Linked DNA regions of Homo sapiens: all the other regions are linked to region 2. The links come from fine-mapping of genetic effects on gene expression. A gene starts in region 2. Each other region holds a variant in brackets. All regions are shown on one strand. Distances are between the middles of the regions.

Region 1 (2,683 bases), 52 kb before region 2:
GCCAGCATTTTGTTTATACATTCATCTGTTGATGGACACTTGGATTGTTTCTACCTTTTGGCTATTGTGAAAATGCTCCAGTGAACATTGGTGCGCGCATATCTATTTGAGTCCGTCTTAGATTCTTTTGGGTAGTATAAACCTAGGAGTAGAATTGCTGTTTGGTAATGATAATTCTATCTTTAGCTTTTTGAGAAACCGTGAAACTGTTTTCTACAAAGACTGCACCATTTTACATTTCCACCAGCAATGTACAAGGGTTCCCATTTCTTCACCTTCTCACCAATAACCTGTTAATTTCTGGGTTGTTATTATAATTATTATTATAGCCATCCTAGTATAGTCTAGGAAGTGGTATCTTATCATGGTTTTGATTTGCATTTCCTCAGTGACAAATGATTAGTATTATTTCTTGTGCTTATCTGACCATTTATGTCTTAGAGAAATGTCTAAGTTCTTATCATTTTTAATTAGGTTGTTTGTCTTTTTGTTGTTGAGTTATAGGAGTTCTTTACATATTTTCAATATTAAATTCTTCTCAGATGTATGATTTGCAAATGTTTTTCCCCATTGTTGTCTTCTCACTTTCTTGATAAGGTCCTTTGAAGCACAAGCTTTAATTTTGATGAAGTCCAATTTGTCTTTTTTCTGTTGGTTATGCTTATAGTGTCATATCTAAGAATCCATTGCCAAATCCAGGACCATGAAGATTTACCTGTTTTCTTCAGTGTTTTGTAGTTTTAGAGCTTGTATCTATGTCAGTGATCCATTTTGAGTTAATTTCTGTATATAGTATGAGTTGTGGTCCAATTTCATTCTTTTGCATGAAAGAAAATCCAGTTGTCTCAGCACTATTTGTTTCTACTTTTTCTCTCACTGAATGGACTTGGCACCCTGGTCAAAAATCAACTGGTGAGTCGGGCACAGTGGCTCATGCCTGTAATCCCAGCATTTTGGGAGGCTCGGGTAGGAGGATTGCTTGGAGTCTAGGAGTTTGAGACCAGCCTGGACAACGTAGTGAGACCCTGTCTCCATAAAATTTATTTTTTAATTAGCTGGGCGTTGTGGCACATGCCTATAGTACCAGCTGCTTGGGAGGCTGAGGTGAGAAGATCAC[C/G]TGAGCCTGGAAGGTTGAGGTTGCAGTGAACCGTGATCACACCACTGCATGCCAGCCTGGGCAACAGACCAAGACCTGTCTCAAGAAACAAAAACAAAACAAAACAAAAAACAAACCCCAAAATTAGCCATAAATGTATGGGTTTATTTCTGGACTCTTGACTCTTGTTTTACACTATATCTGTGACCAAAGGTGGATTCTGGCCCACACTGGTCTCTTCTGCAACATATCTTCTTGTGGCTTTTTTCTGGCCCCGGGTTCCCAAACAAAGCATGCAGTTGCTGGTGATATTCTCTGCACAGTTAGGTTTTTGTTGAGTTGAAGAAGTAGCCAAATTCTTATTGTAAAAGTAGCCTTTCGTACTAAGCTGACTTTACCTTTCGAGGAGAACTTAACAAAATATGTGCTTCTTCCACTTTTAAAGTTTGGGCCCTCAGGTTCTTTTCTTTTTCTTTCTTTCTTTTTTTTTTTTTTTTTTGAGACAGAGTCTCGCTCTTTCTCCCAGGCTGGAGTGCAGTGGTGCGACCTCGGCTCACTGCAACCTCTGCCTCTCAGGTTCAGGTAATTCTCCTGCCTCAGCCTCCTGAGTAGCTGGGATGACAGGTGCCCACCACAATGCCTGGCTAATCTTTGTATTTTTGGTATTGACGAGTTTTCACCAATTTGGTCAGGCTGGTCTCAAACTCCTGACCTCAGGTGATCTGCCCGCCTCAGCCTCCCAAAGTGCTGGGATTACAGGTATGAGCCACCACACCCAGCCTGTCTGAGCACTCTCTAGTTCTGACATTCTGTGAGTATATGACCTATGGCCTCGGTGTGTGTTCTGTGATAGGAAAGGCCAGGGTGGAGGGATGAGAACAGGACAGCTGGGATTGGAGGTCCTGGCCGTGGCAGTGCCAGCTTAGGGGTTGCTGGCCAGAGGAGTCGGGTGGCTACCAGAGGCAGGGGGCTGGAGGCTCTGCTTTGTTTTAGAACTTTTTGAGTGCAGCTACTTCTCTTTTGATGGATTTATAGCAGTACAGTACCAAGACAGCTGGACTGGATGGGGCAAATGAGGGCAGTGTACAGAGGGTCGATGAGGAATGGCGTTAGAGGGCAGTGAGTGGGGGGTGGTCTGTTTCCCATCCAGCTGGTGTAACTGGGGCTCAGGGTGATTTATGGTGGAGAGGGGAGTCGGGTATGGAGGTGGGGCATGGACTTTTCAGATCCCTTGGGACTTGCCCGCGCTGAAGTTTGACATCATCAGGCACTGTGGTTTTCCAGATAGGGTCACTGGATGCAGTCCAACAAATGCAAAAAGACCTTGGGCAGGGACATTGTATCTGTGACCAAAAGTGGAAGGAAGCTCCAGCTATGCCTACAGTCTGGAGAACAGTTGCCAAGTAGGGGCTCATGGGTATCTGTTGATACTTACTGCCTTCACTCTGGAAAATCCTGAGCCTGAGTCTCAGCTGGGAGATTCTGGCCCAGCATGTGCTTGGGGGAGATTCACACCTTTGCTGTCTATCCTAAGCCATGTAGTTTGTCCTGAAGGTGCAGCAGTTAGATCTCTGGGCTCAGGTGTGT
Region 2 (2,683 bases):
TTTTATAATTAATGGGCAAGAGAAGGCAAGGCTGAAGGGCTGGGAGAGCCCTGGGGTGGGGGTCTGGCTGTAGCCCCAGGGCAGCAGGATGAGCCCCCTCCCTCAGCCCCCTTGGCTGTTCTCACACTCTCTGCGGGGCAGTCCTGACCGCCTATTTATCATCAGAAGATCCCCGCACAACACTCTTCTGGCGCGGTTGGCGCGGCAGAATCCAGGATGCACACGAGGACGCCCACGGGGCGTGTGGGGACCGTGCCCCTCCGCAGACCTCTCCCGGATCACCTGCTCCACACGCAGGCCTTGGTGACCCCTCAGCCTGCTGCTCCTTGCTTCCGCCCGCCCTGCTGTGGGTCCCGCACCTTCTCAGTGTGCCATGCCTTGCATTCAAGCTGGTCCTAGTCACAGCCAGGACCTCCTCAGCGCGCAGAGACTTTCAGATGATCTTTGTAGGGGTTTTTGCCTCCGGTCAACTGCGCCCCTTAGGAAGGGCTTTGGAGGACACAGATCACAGAACAGTTTCAGCTCCACCACTTCCTAGCTTTACGGCCTTGGGCATCTCAGCATTCCTATTCTCTGGGTTATAGGGATATGATGTTTGTCTCTCAAGGCTACTGTGGAGATTACATACTAGAAATTTGCAAGGGCTGGGAATGCAATAGACCGTAAATGTTCCCCTTCCCTTGACGCTATAGCTTAGATGGGAGGGAGCCACTGCTGAGGAAACACCTCCTTAACCCAAAGACAGAGGGTTCCCCAGGCGGGGGTGTGGGAACTCGGAGGTGGGGGTGAGGGAAGGCCAACCTCCACGCTTCGGCCCGGAGGTTCCCCCGCCTCTTCCTGCACGACTGGATTCCTTCTCCATCCGCGCCTCCGGCCCGGTCCCTGCCCCGCCAAATCCGCGCATCGGTTTCCCATCCCATAGCGCAGATAGGTAGGGCAGGTACACAGGGAGGTGTTCGAATGATCCCCGTTTCACAGAAGACGAAACTGAGGCTGGGAGGCCTGGGGACTGGCCCGGCTGCAGCGCCGCCGTTAGCCGAAGGTGGGAGCCGGCGCGGTCACGCGCATGGAGCGTGGATCGCGACGATTTCGGGGGAGGGGGCAAGGGCGCTCCGCAGGCCCTGAGCCGGCCGGGGGGTGGGGTCTCTGCGGGGCGGGGCGGGGCGGGGCGAGGGAGAAGGGGCAGGCCGCCGCTGCCACGCAGTACTCCCGCCTTGGCGCCAGAGGGGCGCGGGACGGTGCGGTCGGCCTCCCCGCCTCCACGCGCGCGCACGACCCGCGCACTCCCGGAGCTTCGCCCATCTCGCCTCGCCGCGCCGCGCAGGCAGCCGCTCGCAGAGCCAGCAGCCGGGGCCCTGGCGTGCAGCGCGGGCCTCGGCGGGGCCCAGCGCCCCGGCCCGGGAGGATGCGGCCCGGGGCGGCCCGGGAGCTGAGCAGGGCCCCCGCGCCGGCCCCTCCGGGCCCCGGCCTCCAGAGCCGCAGCCACCGCCCCGCCCCCGAGAGACATGACTTCCAAGCCGCATTCCGACTGGATTCCCTACAGGTACGCGGGCGCCGGGCCGGGGCGCCCACCACTCCCGACTCGGGACGTGAGCTGGCTGGGGATACGCGGCCGGGGCGCAGGGCACCGCTGCCCTCCCCACCTATCCCAGCACTGGGGCGCGGGTTGGAGTCGCTGGTCCTTCCTCCCTCAACTTTGAGGGCCCCTGCGGACTGCTCCCGCCTGCCCCGCTCCACCCCCTTATCTGCCAGGGTTGCTGGAAGGGGCCTGTGTGGGCCTTGTTGGGTCAGGCAGCACCATGTGGCCGCCTGGGGAAGGAGTCCACACTGCTCTGAGCCCCCTCCTAGGCCCAGAACCCCAGTCACACGCCTGTGCAGGGTGCGCGCACACGCTCATACATCTGCACGCATGCACCCACAGGACGTCCCTGCCTTGGGCCAAAGACGCTCCTGCTGGTCGGTTCACACTCTCAAAGCATGGATCCGTGAAGACAGTTATTCTGAACCAAGAGCACACCAGTGGTCATGTGGACATGCACCCGTATATTCTACACACAAGAATTCTTGGGCTCACAAAGACACATGCCTGCATATCTGTGCACGTCCACCTCCTGTATCTGGAGAATAACTGACACCTGCTTCTCACTCACAAGTGCTACTCAGTCTCTTTCAGACACTGAATAATCTACTTGCTAGCAGGTCTATACCTAGACACACACCAGCTCACAGTACATAGAACTGCCCTCACATGCAGAAAGGCACTCAAGAATCCAGGCACACTCAGGGAAGCCCCCCACCCTCTGCTGCCAGGCACTGTGGTCTATCTCAAGGATGGCTGGGCTTTCCCATTTGCCTGGGAAGGGGGCGGGGAGGTGGTCTCTGGGGGGCCCCTCACAGGTGCAGGTCTTTCCCTATCCACTCTACTCCATTCTATTACCAGGGAAGGGAGCTCATCGCCATGGCAGCGCCAGATTCTTGGCCACCCATTGGCTCCTTGGTTGCCATGGGCTACGGGGCTGTCTCTGTGGAAAATGGGTGCTGGACTCCTAAGGCCCACTGTGTTATTGTCGACCCAGGTGCACGTGCTAGCGGACGGCAGGATGAGATCCTCAGGTCCCGCCTTGTAACACAGCTTGCTCTCTGTTAGAGCCTCATACCAGTCACTGATAGAAAATAGTTCTGA
Region 3 (2,683 bases), 46 kb before region 2:
TTCCATGAAGCCCAAGGGGGAAGGACAGTGGGAGTGGGGTCTGAGGTCTGGACTCTGCTTGAAGATTGACAATGATGGGTGGGAGTCCCTCACCCACTGTAAGCTCTAGGAAGAGGGTGAGCATTCCTGTTGATACTGTGGCCCATTGTGTTGGCAGAGTCCAGGCCAGTTTGTGCTCTTGGTGTGACCCCAGGAGGGAGTCCTTTGCTGGATCATCTACCTCATGGGCTGGTACTGACATGCAGGTGCGATTTCCCTGCCTAAAACAGGCTCCAGAGTAAGACTGGCATCGCTCACCAGGGTAATTATTGGTTTGGGTTCAATTTCCATTCAAAACAGTAATCCCAGCCTGAGCTGGGTGTCAGATCTGAAGGTTGATTATTAGTAACATTTATCAACAGCCTCTCTCAGCTTCAGGCAATTACAGCTCATCTGCCATTCCTGCTCCCAGTCATGCAAACTTGCCAGCTTCTTCCCTGCCCACCCCCTCCATTCCCCTCTCCCCTTCTTCTCCCATCTCCTCCCCTTAGCAGACAACCTGACGGAGGGCAGGAGGTGGGTGCCACCTTATGACTCACTATCACCCTGTATGGAGGGGGTCCATGTGCATGCTAGGCACCTGTGCTCCCCAGCAGCAATATTCATGTTGCAGTCTTGTGAAATCTGAATCTGATTCTATCAGAACTGAGGAGAATCTGTGAAGGGGACAGATGGGAACCCATGTCTCCCGGCTCCTTGTCGCATGATGCGTTTTCAATGGCACTGTGCTCCTTCCTGCTCCTGACTCAGTCTGTCCCTCCCCTCCAGGGCTGAGACTAGGGTGAGGCTAGAAAGACATTGACCTCAAGTGCAACATTCAAAGGACCTCGAACAAGCTCAGTAATTAAGATAAATGATATTTCAATATAGTATTTTTTTAAATCAAAATGAATGCAAAGCACATACAACAAAATCAAACCTTTAATAAAGACAAGATACAACACTGGATTTGCGGGCCTTGTATTGGCCTCACTTGCCTTACCCTAACTCCAGTCTTGTTTATCATGGACAGTTTTGCTTTGATTTGCTGGAAGTATTAAATTTCTTGGCTGCTGAGTTTTTTGGCAAATCTTTAAATTCTGCGCCTCAGGCGAGAGCTTTATTCAG[C/T]TTACCCTGGTGCTGGCCCCACTGCTCTCACTTCCCGCTGGGCCCTAACCTCCTGCTCCCTTCAGCTCTTACTGCCTACTGCCTCAGGCAGGGTGGCTCAGCTTCTCTCTTCGCAGGTGCCCAGGGCAGCAGGGGACCCAAAGGGCCCCTCCATGGGCTGTCTTCCAGGGTGCCCATCCTTCATTCCATCCCACTGGACCCTGCTTCAGCCGTCAGACACCTCAGGGAGGGCCTGCAGGTTGCCAGAGTAACTGCTGTGATAACTGGAGGACAGAACATGCTGGTCTTGCTCTGCTCGTAGAATCACATCCAGCCAGGGCTGGATGAGTGCAAGCAGGCACGCCTGACAGCGTCCCTGACACGCTGATCCAAAACGTCACTGGACATGCATGGAGGTGGAGAACATTCCATGTACCCACATTCCTCTAGGGGGAGGACAGCATGAGGCTGGAGGAAAACTGTGGTGATCTGTTTGTGACAGGGAGGTGAGACGCTGAAGTAGACATGGATGCTTCCTAACCAGCCTTCCGCAGAGGGTAGGTCTCATTCGCTGAAGGGCTTCTGTTCTGCTGAGCAGGGTCTGTCAGTAGGGGGGCACACCTGTCTCCAGAGAATACCCTCCTCCTGTCCTCCCCTGGCTGTGCTCCACTAGCCTAAAAGGTAAACAGACATTTTAGAAAGATCAGTGTTGAAGGGGTACCCAAGATGCCAAATTATATCTGGGACTTGAGACACTGTTATGTCGAGGTCCAGGCCTAGGCCAGCTGGTCACAGTGTCCAGATGCCTGTCACGGTGGGAGGCCTGAGGGTCTCAGGGGACATGTATCAGAAGCACCTCTGCCCTGCCTGTTCCACTCTGTAATCTCCCTTCTGAGCCCCTACTGCAGCACAGAGCCAGCTGGTCATCTAGCCTGGCAGTAGTAAGTCATTCTATTTTCCTGCAGATAGGAATACATGGTTCCTGTTCCTCCTATGCACTCTGCCACTTAAATTCCCCTCTCTGAGTCCTAGGTTCCCCTTTTGTGAAATATCAATGATAGCATCCTTCTTAGAAGGCTGTGCTCACCATTCAGTGCACTAATGCAAAGCACTGTGACCGACTGAAGAGTCATGTTCTGTGGGGCCATGGAGGACAGAACTAGGACTGAAGGGAGGTGTGTTTGAGCTTTAGGTGAAGCAGCAATGGCCAACTACAAAGATGGAGGGACCGCTCTGGGAAGAGCAAACACCCTGATGCTCAGAGTGTGCATGAGGAGGTTTCATAATCACCATCCAGCAGCTTAGCCTCAAAAGGGCTGCCTGCCCCAGGGAGCTATGACCCTTGAGAGATGCAGTTTATCCAGCCCTGAGGTTCTGTTTGACCATCTTTCCCCGGTTGTCCTCCAGGGGGTCATGGCACAAGTCTCAGTAGCACGGGCCCCATGGTCCAGCCTTAAGGTAAGAATGGACCTCCCTGGAGGAAGCTGGCTTCATCTACAGTTGATAAGTTCACCTTTTTTCCTGGTCCACTTTCCTTGGTTTAACCCTGTGACCAAAC
Region 4 (2,683 bases), 62 kb before region 2:
TATAGAGATGGCTGTATTGCACAGAAATGGTAAACTTAAAAGCTATAAGGACCAAGCAAGTCATGTAAGAGAAAAGCTGGCCAGCTAGGGCCAGAGGCTTATAGAACAACATATTCCCTGCTCCCGGTGCAGAGGACAGCCACTACTGCGCTCTATGCCTGCCATGCTGAAGACAGGCCCAGCACTGGCAGACATTCTTAGTTTTCAAGAGAGGATAAAAAGCTAGATCTATTAAATCTCCCAATTTTTAAGTGTTGTCCATTTATTCAGTGAAAAGCATTTTTTCCCTGTGATTGTGGGCTGGATGCAACAGGTGCACTGCCAGTTGCAACCTCTGTAACCCATAGGGTTAGCTCTAGTTCACAGGAGTTGTCAGGATCCTTGGATTAGCGTAGCGCAAACCCTACCTCCCCCTCCTCGCGCTCCAGCCTCCTGGCACCTCCACCCCACCCTGACCCTGGCGTGAAGTTAGCCAGCCACCCCACAGCAACTGCCCGAAAGGTCCTTCTTAGGCTCTTGTGACCTCTGCAAGAAGATTATACCTGTAAATCCCTAAAGCCATCAGCCTAAGATGGGGGATGGGAAGGGACTGGGGGCCCGGGGCAGACAAGAAGGCGCGAGCTGGCTCTCCCTGCCCCACCCCTCCCCACCCCGCCCCACCCAGGCGGGCTTTCTCGCCATAGCCTTCCCTGGGTCACTGTCAGACAAGCTCTTCCCTGGCTGAGCCAAGACACTTGGACTTTTTCCAAAGGATTTTTAGTAGTAATGAAGAGAAAGCACAAGGGACATAAACAGAACAAGGTGGCCTAGAAATGGGAGTGTTTACAGAGCTTGGTCTTCGGAACCCAAGAGGGCCGTAATAGACCAGATAGCAGGGCCGAGGGAATCCACCCGGGAGAGAGGGAGGGAGTAGTGGATTTCCATTCTCAGTAAGGAGGGAGGCAGTTGGAAGAGAGGAGGGGACGGTGGTTTCAAGACTTCCACCCTGGGGAAGAAGGGACGGGGAGACGGCGGGAATCTAGGAAATTGGGGGATGGCTATTTCCATTCCTGAGAAGGGGGGAACTTGATTGTGGGAGGTTGGCTGAAGACTCCCACGCCGGAAAGGAGGGCGCCTCTGCGGAAGGGCCCCGAGTGGCGACAGCGGATCCGGGACTCCCAAGCAAGCAGGAGCCGGAGCAGCCTCTTAGCAACCCCTGTCCCG[G/C]GAAGGTTTGAAAGCAGCGGTGCCCTAGTGACGCCGGAAAAGATGGAGCGGTTGTCATGGCGACGCGGAGCACACCTCGGAAATAAATAAATAAGCGCCCAGGCTGCCGCAGCCGCGCCCCCGCGGGACCCGAGCGAGGGGGAGGGGGCCTCACGGGCCCGGGTCCCCGCAGTCGCGCGTCCCCGCCATTGGCAGAGCCGGAGGGGGTCACCCCCCGGGGGGCGAATGGTACAGTCCTCCGCCCGCGCCTCGGCCGGGCCCGCAGCCTGCGAGCCAGCCCCAAGCCCAGCGCCGCCGCCGCCCGCGGAGCCCCGAGCGGAGCCGGAGGCGGCGATGGAGGGAGTCAGCAGCCACCGGACCCTGTCTTACAGCCGCTGGAGCTATGACAGGTAGGGCGCCCGAAGGGTGGCCCTGCGTGAGCGCCTGCTGACCCTCGATCTCCTGCGGGAGAAGCGGGCCTCCGGGGGCTAGGACTGGCGCGAGCGCCCGACCCCCAGGGTGGGCTTGGGCACCCGGACCCTCGGGCATCCGGGACCCAGAGCCTCGGGTACGGCGCAGCGGAGCTCCAGCGAGGGTAGTGTCCCCACACCCACGGGGCAGAGCTGTCGGAGGAGGGCACGCGGCCACTGGGACTAGCGAGCTGGCACCTCTGCCCCCACCCCAGCTGCCCCGCCAGGGTCGCTCCGCCGGGGGACCCCGAGAAAGGGCGCGGAGGGGGCGCCGGGAGGGGCGGGGCAGGGGCCGGGGTGGGCCCCTGGCGGGCGGGGCGAGGAGGGGGCGCCTTCGGCTCTGGGATGCGCCCGCCGGCGTCTGCGCCCCGCCGGCCCTCCGCAGGGACCGAGGCTGGCCCCGGGCGGAGTGTCCCGCTGGCTGCCGGGGACCCGCGAGTCGCTGCCTGTTCCGCGGGGCGAGATGGCAGCCTGGGCCGGCTGTCTGGGCGCAGGAGCGGCGCTCTCGAGTTGCCAGGCTCCGCGCCCGCCCCGCGGGGATGGCGAGCGGCTGCCGGCGTGGGCGGTTTGGAGCTGCGCTCCCCACGCACTCGTCCTGGAGGAAGGAGTCATCCTCCCAGGCGAAATGAAAAAAATAAGAACGGAGTGAGTTGGTCATAAAGCCGAGTACATTTATTCCTAGGTTATGCCTGTTCTACCTTTTGTTGGTGTGTTAAATGCCACCCTTGTATTTAAAATGAAACCATGATGATAGTAGATAGTAGTTTGTTTGTTTGTTGTTTTTAAGTTTCGTAACCCCAAGTCCATCTGCAGAATTCTGGAGTTAAATTTCCTGACCCATGACCCTAGATGGTGAGGGCTGGAAGACAAACTTCATTTACTGGGCTGCTCTCATCTCCGTGAAGTCCTGCTTCCTGTGCTCTCCTTCCCTTAACTCTGCCAAAAACCTCCCTGCATCTTCGACAGCCCTTGTTTGCCTAGATTCAGAGGAACAGGTGTCCCTCCTGCCTAAGGCTAGTTTGCCTAGGACC

Direction of the effects. Alleles are on the strand shown, and positions count from the first base shown. SD is a standard deviation of normalised expression in the study named. Not every link is listed here.
In carriers of allele G in region 1, the expression in thyroid of the gene that starts at base 1,206 in region 2 tends to be higher than with C alone (moderate effect, 0.67 SD a copy in GTEx).
With allele T in place of C in region 3, the expression in ovary of the gene that starts at base 1,206 in region 2 is higher (moderate effect, 0.73 SD a copy in GTEx).

Evidence for each region. PIP is the estimated chance that this variant, and not a neighbour inherited with it, causes the effect.
Region 1: its variant is fine-mapped to the expression of TUB in thyroid (GTEx, PIP 0.94).
Region 3: its variant is fine-mapped to the expression of TUB in ovary (GTEx, PIP above 0.99).
Region 4: its variant is fine-mapped to the expression of TUB in whole blood (TOPMed, PIP above 0.99). The same link has a PIP of 0.9 or more in blood mononuclear cells.

Annotation. Positions count from the first base shown.
Region 1 is chr11:8,027,812-8,030,494 of GRCh38, forward strand. It overlaps a transcript of TUB not described here. Among named protein-coding and RNA genes, the nearest start is that of CASC23, 13 kb to the left of the region's middle. The variant C/G (reference allele first, on the strand shown) is at 1,118.
Region 2 is chr11:8,080,006-8,082,688 of GRCh38, forward strand. It overlaps TUB (TUB bipartite transcription factor), which reads left to right and starts at 1,206. Exons shown (of 12, transcript NM_177972.3): 1 at 1,206-1,543. The coding sequence starts at 1,506.
Region 3 is chr11:8,034,260-8,036,942 of GRCh38, forward strand. LOC124902627 (a long non-coding RNA gene) reads right to left here. Exons shown (of 2, transcript XR_007062581.1): 2 at 943-1,799. It also overlaps a transcript of TUB not described here. Among named protein-coding and RNA genes, the nearest start is that of CASC23, 19 kb to the left of the region's middle. RefSeq lists an enhancer at 1,416-1,980. The variant C/T (reference allele first, on the strand shown) is at 1,147.
Region 4 is chr11:8,017,767-8,020,449 of GRCh38, forward strand. It overlaps a transcript of TUB not described here. Among named protein-coding and RNA genes, the nearest start is that of CASC23, 2.6 kb to the left of the region's middle. RefSeq lists a silencer at 1,431-1,500. The variant G/C (reference allele first, on the strand shown) is at 1,204.